Linked DNA regions of Homo sapiens: region 1 is linked to region 2. A link means that fine-mapping ties the variant in region 2 to the expression of a gene that starts in the linked region. Tissue or cell type: unexposed skin. Region 2 holds a variant in brackets; the other region holds the start of a gene. All regions are shown on one strand. Distances are between the middles of the regions.

Region 1 (9,080 bases), 25 kb before region 2:
TCTTCTTTCCAACACTGACATTGTGTGGTAATCATACCTTGGCATGAATACCTCAAGCCAGGAAGGATATAACCAGAGTAAATTTGGTACATTCTTTAAGTGTATTTCTCAGATGGCAGGGGGCTGATGTAACAAAATATGCCTGCAGTTACAATTTAAAAGTGTACTTAATTCAACCAGCACAAGGACACCGACTAATTGAATATAAAGAGTATAATTAGTTATGTCCCATAATCATCAGAACAATGTCTTTACAGAAAAGGTAAAAGACCTTGTAGTTGAAATACTCATGTTGTATTTCCAAGAATAGTATTACCAATCACATATCTTAAAATTTTTTAACCCTTTAAACTAATTTTATTTTACTTCAAAACTGGTTACTGAATATCATTAACCTTTGAGGTATATTTCTGTGAGTTAAGCAGAAACATAAATTGACTTTTTAAATGGATGAACCTTATTAAACTTGCAGCTGATTTTTTTGTCAATATTCTAATAAAAGGAACCTCGCCAGCATTTCAGAGAAAGGGCTACAAACCCAACAACCAGTTAAAGTTCCTTATGTAACTATGGTCTTATTGATTATAACAAATTAGCTGCCTATGTGAGGATTTGTCCTAGATCTAGGATAGCCAGAGAAATAAATATAAATTTTGTGACTTACAGTAGTTATCAAATTAACGTGTTCTGCTGACCATGATGGAATAACTGGTATCAGATGATCATTCCCATTATAAATAACCATAACACTGGGGAAAGTATAAAGCAACTATTTTCAGGCCCTGGACTATAGGTTGCACAAAATTGTGATCCCTGAGAGATGGGAAATTCAGAAAATGAGTTCTACGTTTGCCCTGGCTAACTGCTTGGGGACAATTTCCTGACCATGATATGGGATGGTGGGGGAAAGACACACTAGTCTCACTGAGATGAGGAGGCAAAAAAGACTTTAGGGATGGTGAAGCAGATGACACTGGTAGGGTAGGTCTCAGAAAGGAGGCAGCTGTGCAAAGAGGGGAAAGCCCACCTCAGCTGAAGTTGAGCTTTGCTTGTGCAGGGTAAATATGCAATGATTACCAGAAAACAGCTGCTTGAGAGAAGAATGGAAATACTAGAAGTTTAGCAGGGCTGGCGAGTGTAGGCATTCCAGCCCAATCAGAATAAACAAACCTCATTAACACCTCAATCATTCAGCTGAGAAACCAGAGAGGCCATGCCATAAAATAAGGACCACATCTTATAGTAAGGTCTTCTCAAGATATGCTCTAACTGGAACTAAATTAAGGACGTAAAAATATCTGCATGGGTTAAAGAACTTGGAGTTTGAGTCCTGCAAGTTAGAGGAGCCTGGTAAACACTTTGACCTTTCAAAGATCTATCCTAACAAAGAATAAAATGAAGCCTGCACAAGTTCAAAACATTCATCCAGTAATTAAACTGCCTACAGGTAAAAAAAGCACTTTCAGACTAACGTAAGAGAATTTAGAATCATGCCACAAAAAATGTCCTGCATAAAAAAACTTTAAAATTACTAGACATGCAAAAAAACAGGAAGTGTGACCCACTGTTAAGAAAAAAAGGCAGTCACAGAAATAGATCCTGAGATGGTCCAGAGGTTTCAGCACACAGACTTTACAGAAACTAGCATAAACATATTAAAGAAAAATACACACATCACAAAGAAACAAATGGGGGTGGAAATCTCAGTGGAAATTATTTTAAAAAGAAACAAGTGGGAATTCTAGAACTAAAAATGTAACAAATAAAAATTTAAAATTTGCTAGATGGGCTTAAAAGATTGAAGATGGCAAAAGGAAGTTTCAGTGAACCTGAAGACAGGTCAATAGAAACCAATCTGGCAAACAGAAAAACATACTGAGGAAAATTGGATAGAGCTTCGGGAACAATATCAAATGGTCTAACATACGTGTAAGTGGAGACTCAAAAGGAGAAGAAATTGAGAAAGAATTATCCAAAATGAGAAGAAACTGAGAATTATTTAAAGATAATGATGGCTAAAGTTCCTAAATTTAATGAAAAACAATAGCTGACAGGTTAGAGAATCTCAATAAACCTCAAACTGGATTAATACCAAACAACAACAAATGATTTAGACACATGAATGTCAAACTGCTGAAAACCAAAGACAAAGCAAATTCTCAAGAGCGGTGTGTGTGCGTGCACACACACACACCCCTATCTACCCATTCTCAACTATACCAAAACAAACAAACAAACAAAAAAACCTGACCTTCCCTGGGGAAATATGAATAACCTGTCTTTATTTTCAAGTTCAAAAGGCAAAAGTCAGCTATATCTGGCAGCTGCTCCATGCACTGCCTTACCTGCATGAGGGATTTAAGCTGCTCAGTGGGTCAGATTTTAAGCTGGAAGAGAAGCCATTATCACCCAGTGAGACCAGATTGCTATAGTTTTCCAGCACCATCTCCCAGTATAGGTCCTTCTGAGCAGGACTCCACAGGCTTCATACCTCTTAGATGAAATCCACAGCCACAACCTTGAATATTATGAAAAACCATTATGCCAAACACAGCTCCGCTCACTCTGTTGACATGTGTGCCCATGTTGAAAACAAGGGAGCAAGAGGGCTGCCTTGGGGAAGATAGGTAAAATATCTAGGTCCTGCTTTTGACTGTAACTCTGGAGCTTGGATTCCAAGACCATTAACCCTATTCACTATCCAACCAGCATCACTTGCTGTGATCCTAGTCTGGCTATTATGGGCTTTACAAATGAAAACACAATTCCTAACCTTGAGGTGTTTTACATTTAATAGATAACATATTAAAAGAAAATATAAGTATAGAATCATGGTCTTTCTGAGATTTAGGAATTTGGAGATTCTTTAATCTAGCTGCTTATATTCAATTTAAAGATCTGAGCCCCTGATTGGTTTAAAGCCTTGTTACCCAGTCTGGTCTGAAGACAAGCAGTACCAGCATCATCTGGAAGCTTATTAGAAATGCTGATGCTTGGGCTCCATCAGGCATTCTGATTCAGAATTTGCTGCTTACAAGATCCCAAGTGACATGTATGCATGTTTTTGAGAGCGCTGGGTTAAATGATCTACCGAGGTATATGGTTCAGAAATAGCAACAACCAATAACTAAACTTCTGATTTTCCAAAACAAGATCTCTCTTCTACATTATTACACAACATCTTCCCTTCTCAAGAGGAAAACAGCTCTGTTATGAATAATGGATGCCCAGGCTCCACTGCAAACTCATTTCTTGGGGTGGTGTTCAGGCATTGTATTTTTAAAAGCTTCCAAGTACAGCCAGGGTTAGAAGAGTCTCAAGTAGTCACTATAGTATAGTGATCAGGGAAGGTTTCACGAAAGAGAGCTAGGTATTTGGTCTTGAAGGACCAGATGGATTCAGAGGAGCTAAGGGTATTCCAGATGAGGTATGGCATGGAGTGGGTGGGAAATGCCAGGAGAAAAAGAGGACATGGCAGCAAAGAGTGTTTTAGAAAGCAGGCAATCCAGATTTCTAGATGGAAACTCCTAATTATTAAATGCTGAGGTCTGTCAAAGATGAAACTGGAGGCTGGACACACCAAATATCTGTATGACAGAGCTGTACATCTAGACGGTGGACATCTAGCATCCCTGTCTATATGCAAGTCAGCTGGCTGCAAGACCACGTGCTGCTGAAAATCTCACTGTGGTCATGACAGTCCACCCAGTGGCTCAGACCCTGAGATTCTGTTCACACTTCCTACACTCTTCCTTACTCGTCTGTGTTCTTCCAACTCCTCATCTTGCCTAATTCCTCAGGCAGCACCTCATCCTGTAAGTCTTCATTTCCAGGCTTAAGAGATGTCAGCCATCTGTGTCTTTATTGTACAGCCAGCACAAGTGAACACTTGAACACAGGCATCCCTGCATTGTTGTTCTGAACCTTTATGTGTATTAACAACTAATTTCTTGGTGATGACTGACTCATGAGGCAGAGAATGATGTTGAGGGATGAATCCAATTGACACTGGACATGTCTCCGGAGCCAGGACTGAACTGAATTCACAATAAATAATGTAGCCTCGGGGTACCAGAAGGGAATGGATTCACCCTCTGAGAGCTACAAAAGAATTTTAGGAAATTCTCATCTCCCTGGCCCTTCAGACAGTGGTCATTTTCTTGGTCTTCCAAGAGAATGACAAAGTTTCAGAAAGCCTATCTGAGGAAGGTGAAGGGCAGTGAGAGGGTGCACGGGTGGAAAAGCCCTCTCAAGAGTGACGTGGGCCTTCCCCTCGAGCTCCCCAGATGGGGCGTCCCAGATGGCACCAGCGCAATCTTGTTCTCAACCAGGATCCCGGACAAAGACCTAGAGATCCAAGCCGACGGCAGGCCAAGCTCTGGCCCGAGACTGAGGCTTCTGCTTCTCAGGAGATGAGAGTTTAACAATAACTTCGTGGATTTCAAAAAGAAGAAAAAGGTCTCAGGGCACCGGAAAAGGTGTATTCGGGTTGAGGGCGTGGGCTCAGAATCGGGTCTACCTCGTACGGGATGTGAGACTTCAGGCAGACTGCTCGGCCTTTTCAAGGCTTTAAATGGAGCTAAAGGGTATACGACATGACGTTCGCCCGGTGTTTAGGAATATGGGGCGTGACTTTCCAAGCAGGCGGCTGGAGCCAGGGAGACCACAGGCCGCTGCAACACAAACCAGCACCTGAACAAGCTTGGTCAGCCAGCGGTACACCTCCGCCAACCCCAGAAGCCGAACAGATGCGCCCCGAAACGTCATTTCCGCGCGCCAAGGGGCGGGGCCGGTACCGGGTGCGGAAGTCGCTCCAGGGGTCACTGGGAAGTGTAGTTTTCGAGACAGAGGCGCTCAGAAGGAGGGTCACAGTAGGGCCAGGCACTCTTCTCGGGAGCTCCTACGTGTTTTATGCACGTGGTTAAGAAAAAAGAGGGAGAATTCAGGTGCCACAGTGGCCATTCTCCGGTGACCGGAGCGTGTTACTCAGAAACGGATCCGTCAGAGGCCAATGGGAGCTGCCGGCCTTCAGGGCGCGCCTGGTGGCGCCGAGCATCCTGGGAGGTGTGGTCCGGGCGCTGTGCCGAGGATTCGGGGTAGTGTAGTCCTGGCGCCCCGCTGGAGGAGCTCCCCAGCTGGTGGCTGGAGCGACCCCTTGTTCTTTGGTGGCGCTGGTGAGTGAGGCTCCCGCGGGACCCTTGCCGCAGCCGTACCCTTTTCTGCGCGAAAAGGAAGGTCCCGAAAGGCTGGACTATGGGCTGAATTTGGGGACCGTGCGGGTGGCGCGGGGGTGGTGATTGTGGTGGGAACGCGCTGGCGTGGCGCAGGCCGTCCTCTCCCAGATGTCTTATTTTGGGGGTGTGGGCGTGCATCTCCAGGGGAGTTGGGTGAAGCCCATCCGTGAAACTGGATGGTGATGAGTGGGGGATCGGGCTCTCTCTCCTAGGGTTCTTGTGGGTGGGGACAGGTTCGGCTTTGGCTGAAGTCGGGTATTGGGAAAGGGAGTCGCTGATGCCATAAGTCCCCGGTTTTGGGGGAGTTGAATAAATAAGCTTTTTGGGGGAATGGTATTTCCCAGGTGGTGGAATGGGAACCATCCCTGGGGCCATGTGTCCCCGAGGCATTGGTCGGTTGAGGGCTAGTCTCTTGGGGCCACACTATTCTTCGGCTTTGCTGGAGTGGAATGAGGAGCGGTCTGGCTTGACCAAACAAGCCAAGGTTAGACTGGATCTGGGGTGGCCATTTTGCCGCGATCTTAGGGTTTCACTTTGGTTGGTCACCCCCGGGTTCGGGCGTTGGAGGAGGAAGTCTGGCTGGGACGCACAGGACAGGTTTTTTCCAAAGGTCCCAGGGACCGTCATTGATCGCAAGAATTACGGATTCCCAGGCCCCTGGTGTGGCCAGGCTTTGGGATTTTACATTCCATTTAAGTTTTTATTGCGGAGAAATTTCAAACAGCCAGAAGTAGATAGAACTCTATAGACCAGATCTCCATCACCCAGATTCAACACTTAAAACCTTATGACCAATCTTGATTCATCTCAGAATGGACACAGAGAATCCTTGCAATCCAGAGTTCACCGTCACTGCCCTTACTGTGTAAGAGCACGGTCTCCACAGCCACATTTCCTCTAGGCTCTGTCACTTTATAGCTGTGTCACCTTGGGCAAGATGCTGACTTCACTGTACCTCAGTTTCCTCGATTTTATCCTAAAGAGGATAATAGCATCTATCGTATTGGGTTGTTGAAAGGATAGAATGAGGTGAAACTCCTACAGTGGCTGTAACAGTCTCTGGTGTATACTAAGTGTTCAGTGAATATTACCTTTCATTAATAACAGGCACAGAGAAGGTCGCTTCATGCTCAGCGTCAACAGCATATCAGGGCAGGTCGTGCTTTCAACCTGTACCCCAGCTGTGTTCCCAGGAAGCTGCCCGCAGTTCTTTTCTCCTTTTCTTCTGTGGCAGGTTCATTCCTGATGCTGTTAAGGAATAGGAGGTACTGCCCTGCTGGAGAGGATTTCCCTTGATTTTCTTGAACGCTTTTTGTTCTTGTTCTGCCTCCCTGTGGCTCCTGTCTGCCCAGAGAGGACTGCCTGCTGGGGAAAGGGGGTACTCCTGAGCTCCTGACAGCCCAGCTTCAGGTGGGTGCCACTTACCTTTTGCATTTCGAACCATGAGTGGGTTTCTTTTGCTCAGCTTTGACGTCTGTGTTCTACAATGTCCCATCCAGGGATCAGGGCCCCAGCTGGTTCCTTCAGGAAACTAGGCTTGTTTTAAGAGTGATCATTTTCACAGGGAATATTTTTCAGAGCTGATGCTCTCATTCATTACACCTATATTCTTCCCCTACATTCCTTCTTTCAGTATTTGTTCAGACTGCTCATTCCCAGGGCTTGTCAGGTCCTGTGAAGTTGTTAACATTCTGTTCTTCTGTCTTCCAATACTCTCACTTACTCTTTTCCCTGCTAGAGTTTTGGCAGCAAATCCCAGTTATATCATTTCACCTGGGAACACTTCAGGAGGCATCTCTAACACATAAGGACTTCTTTTTTTAACATAACCACAATTTCATTGTTATACAGTTACATTGTTACAATTATATTTTGTTATACCCAACAAAATTAATAACTTATTAATATCATTTAATATCTAGCCCATATTGTTTTCCCCCATTGTTAAAAAAAAAATCTTTTTTTTCCACCAGTCAGAACAGCCCTGGTCAGAGGCAGGAGAGGGAAAAGTATCTGGAAACAGCATCCCAGTTTTCCCTATCTCTGCCTCATTTCTCCTCCTATTTCTTCTGATCTTGCTGATCTGTGTTGACAGCCTTATAACTTGATATAAGCTGGACCTCTGAGTTTTCCTTGCATCCTTGTTTCCAAACTTACTTCCCATTAGAAGTTGTGTCCTCCTGGCCGGGCACAGTGGCTCACACCTGTAATCAGCACTTTGGGGGGCCAGAGCGGGCAGATCACCTGAGGTCAGGAGTTCGAGACCAGCCTGGCCAACATGGTGAAACCCCATCTCTACTAAAAATACAAAAATTAGCCAGGCGTGGTGGCACACACCAATAATCCCAGCTATTCAGGAGGCTGAGGCAGGAGAATCTGTCGCCTGGGCAACAGAGCAAGACTCCACCTCAAAACAAAACAAAAGTTGTATCCTCCTATTCCACCTGTGCATTCTTCTCGATTCCTTTTCTTTCCCTTTGTCTCCATTTCTGCACTGCCCTAGCTTCCTGTCTCTTCTTCACCTTCTTGCCTTGTCTTTCCTCCCATTTAGAGCTGAACTCCTTGAAAGAATTATCTATGTTTGTTGTCTGCGTTGCTATCCTTCTGTTATGTTTCGAATATTTTAGTAAGGCTTTTTCAAGTGACACCAAAAAATATTCTTGTCAGGGTTACCAATGGTCTCCTTGACTAAAGGCCACAATCAGTTCTCAGCAACATTTGATGTAATTGTTTACATCCTCCTTCTTAATATATCCTTTCACACAGTTGCTCTTGGTACTAGGTCTTCCTGGTTTTCCTCCTAACTCATAGCCTGCTCCTCCTCTGTCTCCTTTACTGGCTCTTCCTTCCCTCCCAAATTTCCACCGTGGAAAAGGCCCTGCTTCAGTTCTTAGACCTCCTGTCTTCTTCAGCTATACTGTCTCCTTGGTTCTCCCGTTCATTCTCAAGGCTTTAAATGCCATCTGTCTGAGGCTCAGCCTAGAGCTCTGTGTGCAACTCACATCCTGGTCCCCTACTGTCTCCTTCTTCACATTTCCAGTTGGATTTTTTTTTTTTTTTTTAGTGAGACAGGAGTCTCGCTCTATCGCCCAGGCTGGAGTGCAGTGGCACAATCTCGGCTTACTGCAACCTCCACTGCCCATCTTCAAGTGATTCTCATGCCTCAGCCTCCTGAGTATCTGGTCTACAGGTGTGTGCCACCCCACTTGGATATCTTATGGGCATCCCAAAACTAATGTGTGCAACAAGAAACTCTGATTACCTTCCCTGAACATGTTCCACCCCAGTGGTATATAGACCATCCTTTCAAGAGTTTATCTTGGAGCAGAAGCATTTCAGCTCTTTCCTTCAGATTGCTTGGAGTCATCAAGGAGTCATCCTTGATCCTGTCTTGCTCTTATACCCTCATCCACACTACGGAAATCTGGACTCCGACAGTTTCCATGCCCTGCTGTTTCCACCATGGTCCAGGCCACCGTCTCATCTGGACGATCATAGCCTTTCAGTGATCTCTTTGTTTCTGCCTATGTCCCGCTAAGGTACATGAATCAGTGGAGCAAATAGAAGGAGATTTTAAATGTAAATCGAATCATGTCATGTGTTTGCTCAAAATCTTCCAGTGGCTTCTCATCCTAACCAAAGTCAAAACCAGTATCCTACAAAGCTAGGTCTGATGTCCCTACATTTACTCTTGGCCTTCATCTGTACCACACTATCTCAGTCACTCCACACCAGCCACAGTGAACTGTCCGTCCCTTGGCCATGCCAGCCTGATTCTTCCTTGCATCAGGGCCTTTGCACTGACTGTTCTCTTGCCCTAGATGTTCTTTTCAAAGTTATTCCCTG
Region 2 (9,080 bases):
CATAGCATACATAATATAAATTGTCGCTGTTTTTCAACTTGCTTGTATCCTTACTGTTCATCTGTTAGAAGGAATCCTAAAGCTCTCCACAGTCGTAATTTATATCAACTTCTCCATTTATTTCTAAGTTTTTGTGTTATATTTCACTTTATTGTTCTATTAGGTATAGAAAGGTTCAGGATATTTTTATCTTACTCATTAATGAAGTTTTTAATGCTGAAATTCTCTTAGTTCCATGAGCTATTGTTTCCTTTAACTTCCTCTTTATTTCTTTTTAGTCTTAGCACTGTACTTTCTGGTGCATCTTTTTGGTATTTTATTGTTCATCCTTTTATTTTAAAATAAAAACATTGTCATTTGGGTGTTTTGCTTTTAAGCAGCAGCATGTAGCTGGTGTTGCATTTGCTGTCAAACCAAGTGGTGTTAACTTTTAATAGTGACTTTACTTAATAACAGATAAATTTCATGAGACTTGCTCAGGGGTTGACTGAGGCAGATGAGTAGGTGTTTTACTACAGCAATAGGAAAGAAGGAAGGTCAGGGCAAAGGAAGTAAAGCATCTGTATTAGTCACCTTGGGCCGCCATGACAAAATACTGTGGACTAGCTGGCTTAAACAACAGAAATTCATTTAGTTATAGTTCTGGAAGCCAGAAGTTCAAGATCAAGTTGTCAGCAGGTTTGGTTGCTCTGAGTCCTCACTCCTGAACTTACAGATGGCCACCTTCCCCCTGTGTCTTCACATGGCCCTTTCTCAATGCTCACACATCTTTGTCGTCTCTTCCTCTTCTTAAAAGGACACCAGCCCCATTGGATTAGGGCCCACCCTTACGACCTTATTTAACCTTAATTACCTCTTTAAAGGCCCTGTCTCCAAATACAGTCACATTAGGGATTACAGCTTCAACATAAGAATTTGGGGGAAACACAACTCAGTCCATAACAGCATCCTTGTGAGAGCACCATAGTGATTTCATAGACTCTCCGCCGAATATATAGTTCCATAAAAGGTCAGTTGGATATGTAAGTCCATTGGATCTCAGTTGTATGAAGGAGTAAAGATGAGGGACTGGTGTATAAGCTGAAAGGTCATGGATTGGAGCCCCAAATAAGGTCAGGAACCAATGTGCCCATGGTGCTTGAGCAAAGTGAGTCAGAAGGTAGAAGAAAAGGCTGTGTCAGAGAAGGGAATGTGCACAGGAGAGAATGTGAAGATTGTGCAGTGTCTGTGAACAGCATTCACAGTGCAGGTGAGGTCAGTGTTGCTGAGAAGTTGGAGTCTTAGCCAGAGGCTCAGCCCTGTGGAGCACCCTGAGAGTGCTGACAGGTATTGGTGTGGAGAGGATGTGAGGCTGGTAGGTGATCAAATATTCAGGGCAGTGTGTGAAACCAGGAGACCTGTGGATGGTCCTAAAAAAAGTATGGTAGGTAATGGTGTGGAAGCCACATTACAAAACAAGGACATTCATCCCACTGTGTAATGCTTGAGATATGAAAGGAAGAAGCTGTCTATCTACTTGAGGGAATCTTACAAAAATCTTCCTCTCAAGGAACAAGAGAGGTGTCTAGCCAAGGACATGGAAGGAATGTTGGACAGAGAAGGAGAGGATGTAGGGGCATTATCTGACCTGTGTGTTCATTCTAGAATTGGCAGGTGGAGGCTGGGAAAATGCTATACACCCTGACCTTTGTACATTTACACAAATATGTGTTTTCTCAACCTGAAAAGTATAGAATTATCAAAACATTTATATTAATAACAAGCAGCTTACCTATCATTGTCTTAAAGCGAAACCTATCTTTTTTGTCTCGTTTTTAATCCTTGTTTTAATTTAAAGAAAAACAGCAGCTCTTACAATGATGTTGAGCACATTAAAAAGAATGCTGTACAATCCAAGGAGCAAGTCATTGTGGTTGCCCAGGAAGCTGTCTTGGAAACCCAAAATATATGTGTAACGGGAGGAAGACTGTTCTAGGTATAAAATACATCTTAACGGTTTCATTATTCTATATTTGGGACTTGGATTTAAGACAGGCAATATCAGAATCCTCAAAATAGGCTAGTTACAAGAAAAGTATTTAATTTTCTCGGCTGTTTCATTAATCAGAATGCTAATTCAATAAATGTAACGGAATCATTTGCAACAACATGGATGAACCTGGAGGATGTTATGTTAAGTGAAATGAGCCAGTCACAGAAAGACAAATACCACACAATCTTACTTATATGTGCAGTCTAAAAAGGTTGGACTCATAGAGAAAGAGAATACAATGGTGGTTACTAGGGGATGGGGGTGGTTGGGGAAGATGTTGGTCAAAGGATTTTCACATAGAAAGAATAAGTTCAAGAGATCTATTGTATAACATGATGACTACAGTTAATAACAATATATTGTATTCTTGAAAATCACTAAGAGTAGATTTTGGGTGTTCTCATCACAAAAAATGATAGGTATGTGAGGTGATGCAATATGTTAATTAGCTCAATTTAGCCATGTCACAATGTATATATATTTCAAAATGTACACAATGAATATATACATTTTTTGTCAATTTAAAAATTAATTAGTTTTTTAAAAGTAACAGGAGTTACCATAATTATGAAGAATTATATGCCCTCCTGAAGTGACTAATCCTTGTTATTTATATTGACTAAGAAGCCTGGTAAGAGGTAACACAGAAGCCTAAGAATGAGAACTAAAGCCAGGTGCTGTGGCTTGCACCTGTATTCCTAGCTACTCAGGAGGCTGAGACCAAGGCAGGAGGATCACTTGAGGCCAGGAGTTCAAGACCAGCCTGGGCAACATAGCGAGACTCTGTCTCTAAAAAAATTTTTATAATTAGCCAGGGTGAGGTGTTGTGTGCCTGTAGTCCCAGCTACTTAGGAAGCTGAGGAGGGAGGATTGCTCGAGCCCAGGAATTTGGGCTACGTGATCTATGATTGTACCACTGCACTTCAGCCTGGGCCACAGAGTGAGATCCTATCTGTAAGAAATTTAAAAAATAAAGAATGAGAAATTGGATATCTGGTGAGGTAAAAATAGAGCTTTTATTTCTAAGTTGAGTATACAAAAGACAAAAATTAGTTATTTTTCATATGGAGGACAGAAATACACCAAGTTATAATTCTTTTTTAGTTACCAGTATTATTGTCAAGTTTAAGCTTTTTTCTGTTTATTGGCAAGCTAAATAATTGTACATGTTTTTAAGCATATATAGTGTTGATGGACGGTATTTAAAGTTTTAAGTTTCAGTCTCAAATAATTAACATAAGGCTGATCTCATTAGTTTAGGCAAAAATACAAGTAAAATTATTGCATGAGAACACTTTGTATAGTTTTGTTTTTGAATTTTTTAACAAAAATATTTATTCTTATAATGATTTCCTAACAGAGATCTTAGAAATTGAAAAACAACTTAATCAGTCTTAAGTTAAAAACTGCCTGAAAAATATGCCATTTCTGGTATTTACTTTGAGTAAAGTAATTGTAGATTCACGTAATTTCTGGCACTGTCTGTAAATTATAAGATACTAGTTGGACACATATATCTACATGTGCCTAATCTTACATATTTATGAAGGCAATATTAGCCTATCTGATTTTTAAAATCAGTATAGGTTGACTCTCCCTTATCCAAAATGCTTAGGACCATAAGTGTTTCAGATTTTGGGTTTGTTTGGTTGGTTGGTTGGTTGGTTTGCATTTTGGAATATTACCATAAACATAATGAGATATCTTGGGTATAGGACCCTAGTCTAAACAGGAATTTCATTTATGTTTTGTGTACACCTTGTACACTTGGCCTGAAGGTAATTATATTTTTCCTTTGAGGATGCTGAATAAACTGAATTTTATGTGCCTGTGTTTTGACTA[T/C]GACCTGTCACATGAGATCAGCTGTGGAATTTTCTACTTGTGGCTGCATGTTGGTGCTTAAAGATTTTCAGATTTTGGAACTTTGCAGATTAGGGATGCTGAACCTATATATTAGTCTTGGAAGTTTAGATTAGTTAAACTTTCTTTGAGAAAGCCTACATATCAGAACCAAGTTTTATATCACTAGAATATTATGCTAATGTTATGTTTACACTGATAAAATAAGGGAAAAGACATTGCATTTGTCTTATTTGCAGGCTTTATCTTACTTTGAAATATTGATTCCACCCTTTAGTTACATACCAGCTAGTAAGGTTGTTTACATATTGTAGTAAATAAGCTCTGAGTGCCTCACATTTCTTTCTTATCGTGCAACCTAATAAGCAAGGTGCCTGGCTTAATTCACAGCTAAACTTTTTTCTTCAGAGCCAGAGCTTCAGCTGCAGCAAGAAAGATTTCCTTCAGAAACTGGCATATTTGAATCATTAGGAGTTCAATTTTCAATTTTATTTATTTTTTATTTTTTTGAGACAGAATCTTGCTCTGTTGCCCAGGCAGGAATGCAGTGGCGCAATCTCGGCTCACTGCAACCTCCGCCACGCAGGTTCAAGCACCTGCCTCAGCGTCCTGGGTAGCTGAAATTATAGGTGCACACCACCACAACCAGCTAATTTTTATATTTTTAGAAGAGACAGGGTTTCACCATGTTGGCCAGGCTGGTCTCAAATTCCTGACCTCAAGTGATCCACTCGACTCAGCCTCCCAAAGTGCTGGTACAGGCGTGAGCCGCTACACCTGGCCTGATTTTTTTTTTTTAATTTAGTTATTCTCGAGTTTTTAAATTTTAAATTTGTGTCAGTGCCCATTAGTCTCTATAAACCTATCAGTGCAGGAGCACCTTAGATTTAAAATATTTTATAAATAAATTCATTAACCTGGTAATATTTTGTGTTAAAATTTCTTCTAAGACTAAATATTCCTAGTGTATACACAGAATGCCAAATTTGGTGACCAACTGAAAAAACTGACTAATGGAGAATTAAAGTTTTGTTTTTCTTCTGTCACTCCATACAAATGTTAAAACCATGTTGAATTAAGATTTCTCTGAAGGCGCTTCTATAATTCTGAAATACATTTAGTGTAAATAAAAGCCTGCCACTTTACACATAGGCACAGCAGCTAGGGCTGTAATAAGCCTACATATCAGAAGCCTTGGTTCTTATAAGGGTGGGTGGGAGGTATTACCTGTGTCAAAATTATAGTCACTGTGCTTAACTCAGGACAGACACAGGAGTTCCTTTTACTGCTGAAAGACCTACTTACCCATGACTATGCCCTAATATGTATGAAGGTAAGCCAAGGAGATATGAGCTGTTGCTTCCCTTCTCCTGTCGTATTCAAGAGAAACAAAATAGCCAATAAATCAAATCTGACAACTCCACCCAACTCAAGTTTCCATAATGTCAAGGAAGTTGCTGGCCAGAAATAGAACACAAAATCAGTTATGAGTTGTGGAACCTCAGACAACCTAGATTAAACCAAATAAACTTAGTGAGAACTCAGTGAAAGCAGGTAGGATTTACTGCTGAAAAAGGGTCTTGAGGGACCACCCGGCACCTGTCCTGAATACAAGGGCTGGAAGAGCAGGCTTTCTCTGCAGGAGCTCCTCAGCACTGGCGTGGGGAGAGGCAGGCATCAGGTTAGATTGTTGGTTCCTCTGTCTGTCATCAAAGCCTGAGGTAAAGGCCACCAGAGCTACTGAAAGGAGAAAAGTTGAGCTTATTTACTGGCCAGGCAGTGAAACACAGAAGGGAAGACATTCACTTGGGCAGTTTGCTGAGTAGGAAGAGTCAGGAATTTTTAAGTGGTAAGAAAAGGTGGTTCTGCTCATTGTAATTAGGATTGAAAAGTAGCATTTCGCGTAGCATGGAATAATTCTGGAATGTGGATGTGTACACTTTTAATAAGCTTGATTTTTCATTGGTCAAGAAAAGAGCATTCGGGTAGATCCATCGAGATCTCTACCTCGTTACTCATATTGCCTGGTCATTGATTGCCTTCAGCTGACTAGACCCAGTTGTGATAAAACAATATACTCAATGTTGACATCTCCTACACAAGAGGCACTATAAGTAGAAATTTCTTCTTTTACACTGATTTTTGGGGAAAATTTTATTTACACTAATTATGGAAATAGGTTGGGGGTACCAGGAGGGAGCATCCTTTAAAGTCATTGGGGACCTGGGCTCTGTGTTGTCCACTGCTGAAAGCCTACTGCCTCCTAGAAATTCTGGCATAGAGTAATCTAACAAATCTTTGTTGAGTGGGGAGACAGCAGCTCGGGTGTGTCACATACTGTTTCACTACCCTCTCATGCTCCTCCCTACACCAGGGCTTCTCTGTTCACTCTAAATAACTGCTTTCTCAATCCATCCCCTTGTCCTCATAGGGAAATAAGGAAGGACATTTCCACATGAGTCCTAGGGTTAGACATCTTTCCATCAAAGAAGAAAGTACTTGTGGACATGATTTATCTCAGTGTGCATGGTTGTGAGTTAGAAGGTAATTAATTGTATTGAAGGTGAGGGGGAACTGTTCCATACTGGCCCTATTTACACACCCAAAAATGCCAGGGATGCTTGTGTAGTCTTATATGTAGAGCAGGTCTTAACAAGTGGGTTTTCTAGATTGTAATGCTAGACGTAATAAGTAGCAGTAGGCTGGAGAGTAGGCCATGTAAAGGAAGTCCCGGTTGGATGGCACTTAAGGCCTAAGTGTTTTGAAGCCTAGGGGATCTGACTAAGCTGATTGCTCAGGCTGCCCACTGAGGACTCAGTTGTGACTCACACTTTTCTCTCTGCAGCAGATCCAGAGCCAGAGCTCTACCTCGATCCTTTCTGCCCTCCGGGTTTCTCCAGTCAGAAATTCCCCATGCAGCATGTGCTGTGTAATCATCCCCCCTGGATCTTCACATGCTTGTGTGCAGAAGGTAACATCCAGCCTGGGGATCCGGGCCCAGGGGACCAGGAGAAGCAGCAACAAGCCTCTGAGGGGAGACCCTGGAGTGATCAAGCAGAAGGTCCTGAGGGAGAAGGTGCCATGCCTTTGTTTGGAAGAACCAAGAAAAGGACTCTGGGAGCGTTCTCCAGGCCACCCCAGAGGCAGCCAGTCAGCTCTCGGAACGGCCTCAGAGGGGTGGAGTTAGAAGCCAGCCCAGCTCAGTCAGGGAACCCTGAGGAAACAGACAAATTGTTGAAGAGGATAGAAGTCTTAGGATTTGGAACAGTCAACTGTGGAGAGTGTGGACTGAGCTTCAGCAAGATGACAAACCTGCTCAGTCACCAGCGGATACACTCAGGGGAGAAGCCCTACGTGTGTGGGGTATGTGAGAAGGGCTTCAGCCTAAAGAAGAGCCTCGCCAGACACCAGAAGGCACACTCGGGGGAGAAGCCAATTGTGTGCAGGGAGTGTGGACGAGGCTTTAACCGGAAGTCAACGCTAATCATACACGAACGGACACACTCCGGTGAGAAACCTTACATGTGCAGTGAGTGTGGGCGAGGCTTCAGCCAGAAGTCAAACCTCATCATACACCAGAGGACACACTCAGGGGAAAAGCCTTACGTGTGCCGGGAATGTGGCAAAGGCTTCAGCCAGAAGTCAGCTGTCGTGAGACACCAGAGGACACACTTGGAGGAGAAGACCATCGTGTGCAGTGACTGTGGCCTGGGCTTCAGCGACAGGTCAAACCTCATCTCCCACCAGAGGACGCACTCTGGGGAGAAGCCCTACGCCTGCAAGGAGTGTGGGCGATGCTTCAGGCAGAGGACCACCCTTGTCAACCACCAGAGGACACACTCAAAGGAGAAGCCCTATGTGTGCGGGGTGTGTGGGCACAGCTTCAGCCAGAATTCAACCCTCATCTCTCACAGGCGGACACACACTGGGGAGAAGCCGTATGTTTGTGGGGTGTGTGGGCGAGGCTTTAGTCTCAAGTCACACCTCAACAGACACCAGAACATACACTCAGGAGAGAAGCCCATTGTGTGCAAGGACTGTGGCCGGGGCTTCAGCCAGCAATCCAACCTCATCAGACACCAGAGGACGCACTCAGGCGAGAAGCCCATGGTGTGTGGGGAGTGCGGGCGAGGCTTCAGCCAGAAGTCAAACCTTGTTGCACACCAGAGGACGCACTCAGGGGAGAGGCCGTATGTGTGCCGAGAGTGCGGGCGAGGCTTTAGCCACCAGGCCGGTCTCATCAGGCACAAGCGGAAGCACTCGAGGGAGAAGCCCTACATGTGCAGGCAGTGTGGACTGGGCTTTGGCAATAAGTCAGCTCTAATTACACACAAGCGGGCTCACTCGGAAGAGAAGCCTTGTGTGTGCAGAGAGTGTGGCCAAGGCTTTCTCCAAAAGTCACACCTCACCTTACATCAAATGACACATACGGGGGAGAAGCCATATGTGTGCAAGACGTGTGGGCGGGGCTTCAGCCTCAAGTCTCACCTCAGCAGACACAGGAAGACCACGTCTGTCCACCACAGACTGCCAGTGCAGCCCGACCCTGAGCCGTGTGCAGGGCAACCTTCGGATTCCTTATACTCTCTCTGAAGGCAAAGATGGGGACAAGGACTAAGAGTCAGAATGTTGACACTTTGATGAAATGGAGTAGAGAAATGCATTCTGTAAGTGGTCAAAGGACATTTGACTGTTTACTTTCTCCACACTAAGTCTTCTCCATGTTTTGTGGCCTTCGGTTGTAATAAACTTGGCTTCTTTATACATCTGTAACTGTGCCTGTGTCCCTCATTCACTCATCTATAACAGGGATAAGGAATGATACAGACATCTGAAACCCTTAAGTCCACTATTCCACAGGAATTCATTTCCTCGGAAAACAAGAACCAAATCATTTGCAGATTTATTAGAAAGACTGGACCTTTGTATGGGGAGAGAATCTAGGAACTACATAAAGAGATTTCATGGGATGGGAGGGGATCTTCCAGAAAGTGTAGCTTCCTCTAGTCCGGCTCCATCTGCAGCTACCCCCATCCCTTGGCTCTGACAGCCCCTTTCCTGCTTCTCTCCTCCCAGCTTTCAAACATCTCCGTTGTTGCCTTTGCCCCTGACTACCTTTGTTGTGTTTCTCAGGCTTTTTTAGTCCCTGGTCCTTCCATCGGGGGCCCTCTCACCAATACATTGTCCC

Alleles and levels. Alleles are on the strand shown, and positions count from the first base shown. SD is a standard deviation of normalised expression in the study named.
For the expression in unexposed skin of the gene that starts at base 5,097 in region 1, C is the high allele of the variant in region 2 and T is the other (moderate effect, 0.48 SD a copy in GTEx).

The links. PIP is the estimated chance that this variant, and not a neighbour inherited with it, causes the effect.
Region 1: ZNF133 starts here. The variant in region 2 is fine-mapped to the expression of ZNF133 in unexposed skin (GTEx, PIP above 0.99).

Annotation. Positions count from the first base shown.
Region 1 is chr20:18,283,431-18,292,510 of GRCh38, forward strand. ZNF133 (zinc finger protein 133) reads left to right here and starts at 5,097. Exons shown (of 7, transcript NM_001352452.2): 1 at 5,097-5,174. RefSeq lists enhancers at 4,670-4,719, 4,799-5,704, 4,810-5,149, 5,710-5,829.
Region 2 is chr20:18,308,332-18,317,411 of GRCh38, forward strand. ZNF133 (zinc finger protein 133) reads left to right here. Exons shown (of 7, transcript NM_001352452.2): 7 at 6,738-8,665. The coding sequence ends at 8,485. It overlaps ZNF133-AS1 (ZNF133 antisense RNA 1), which reads right to left. Exons shown (of 9, transcript NR_187570.1): 7 at 8,381-8,481; 8 at 7,499-7,668; 9 at 3,030-5,632. Among named protein-coding and RNA genes, the nearest start is that of ZNF133, 24 kb to the left of the region's middle. The variant T/C (reference allele first, on the strand shown) is at 3,875.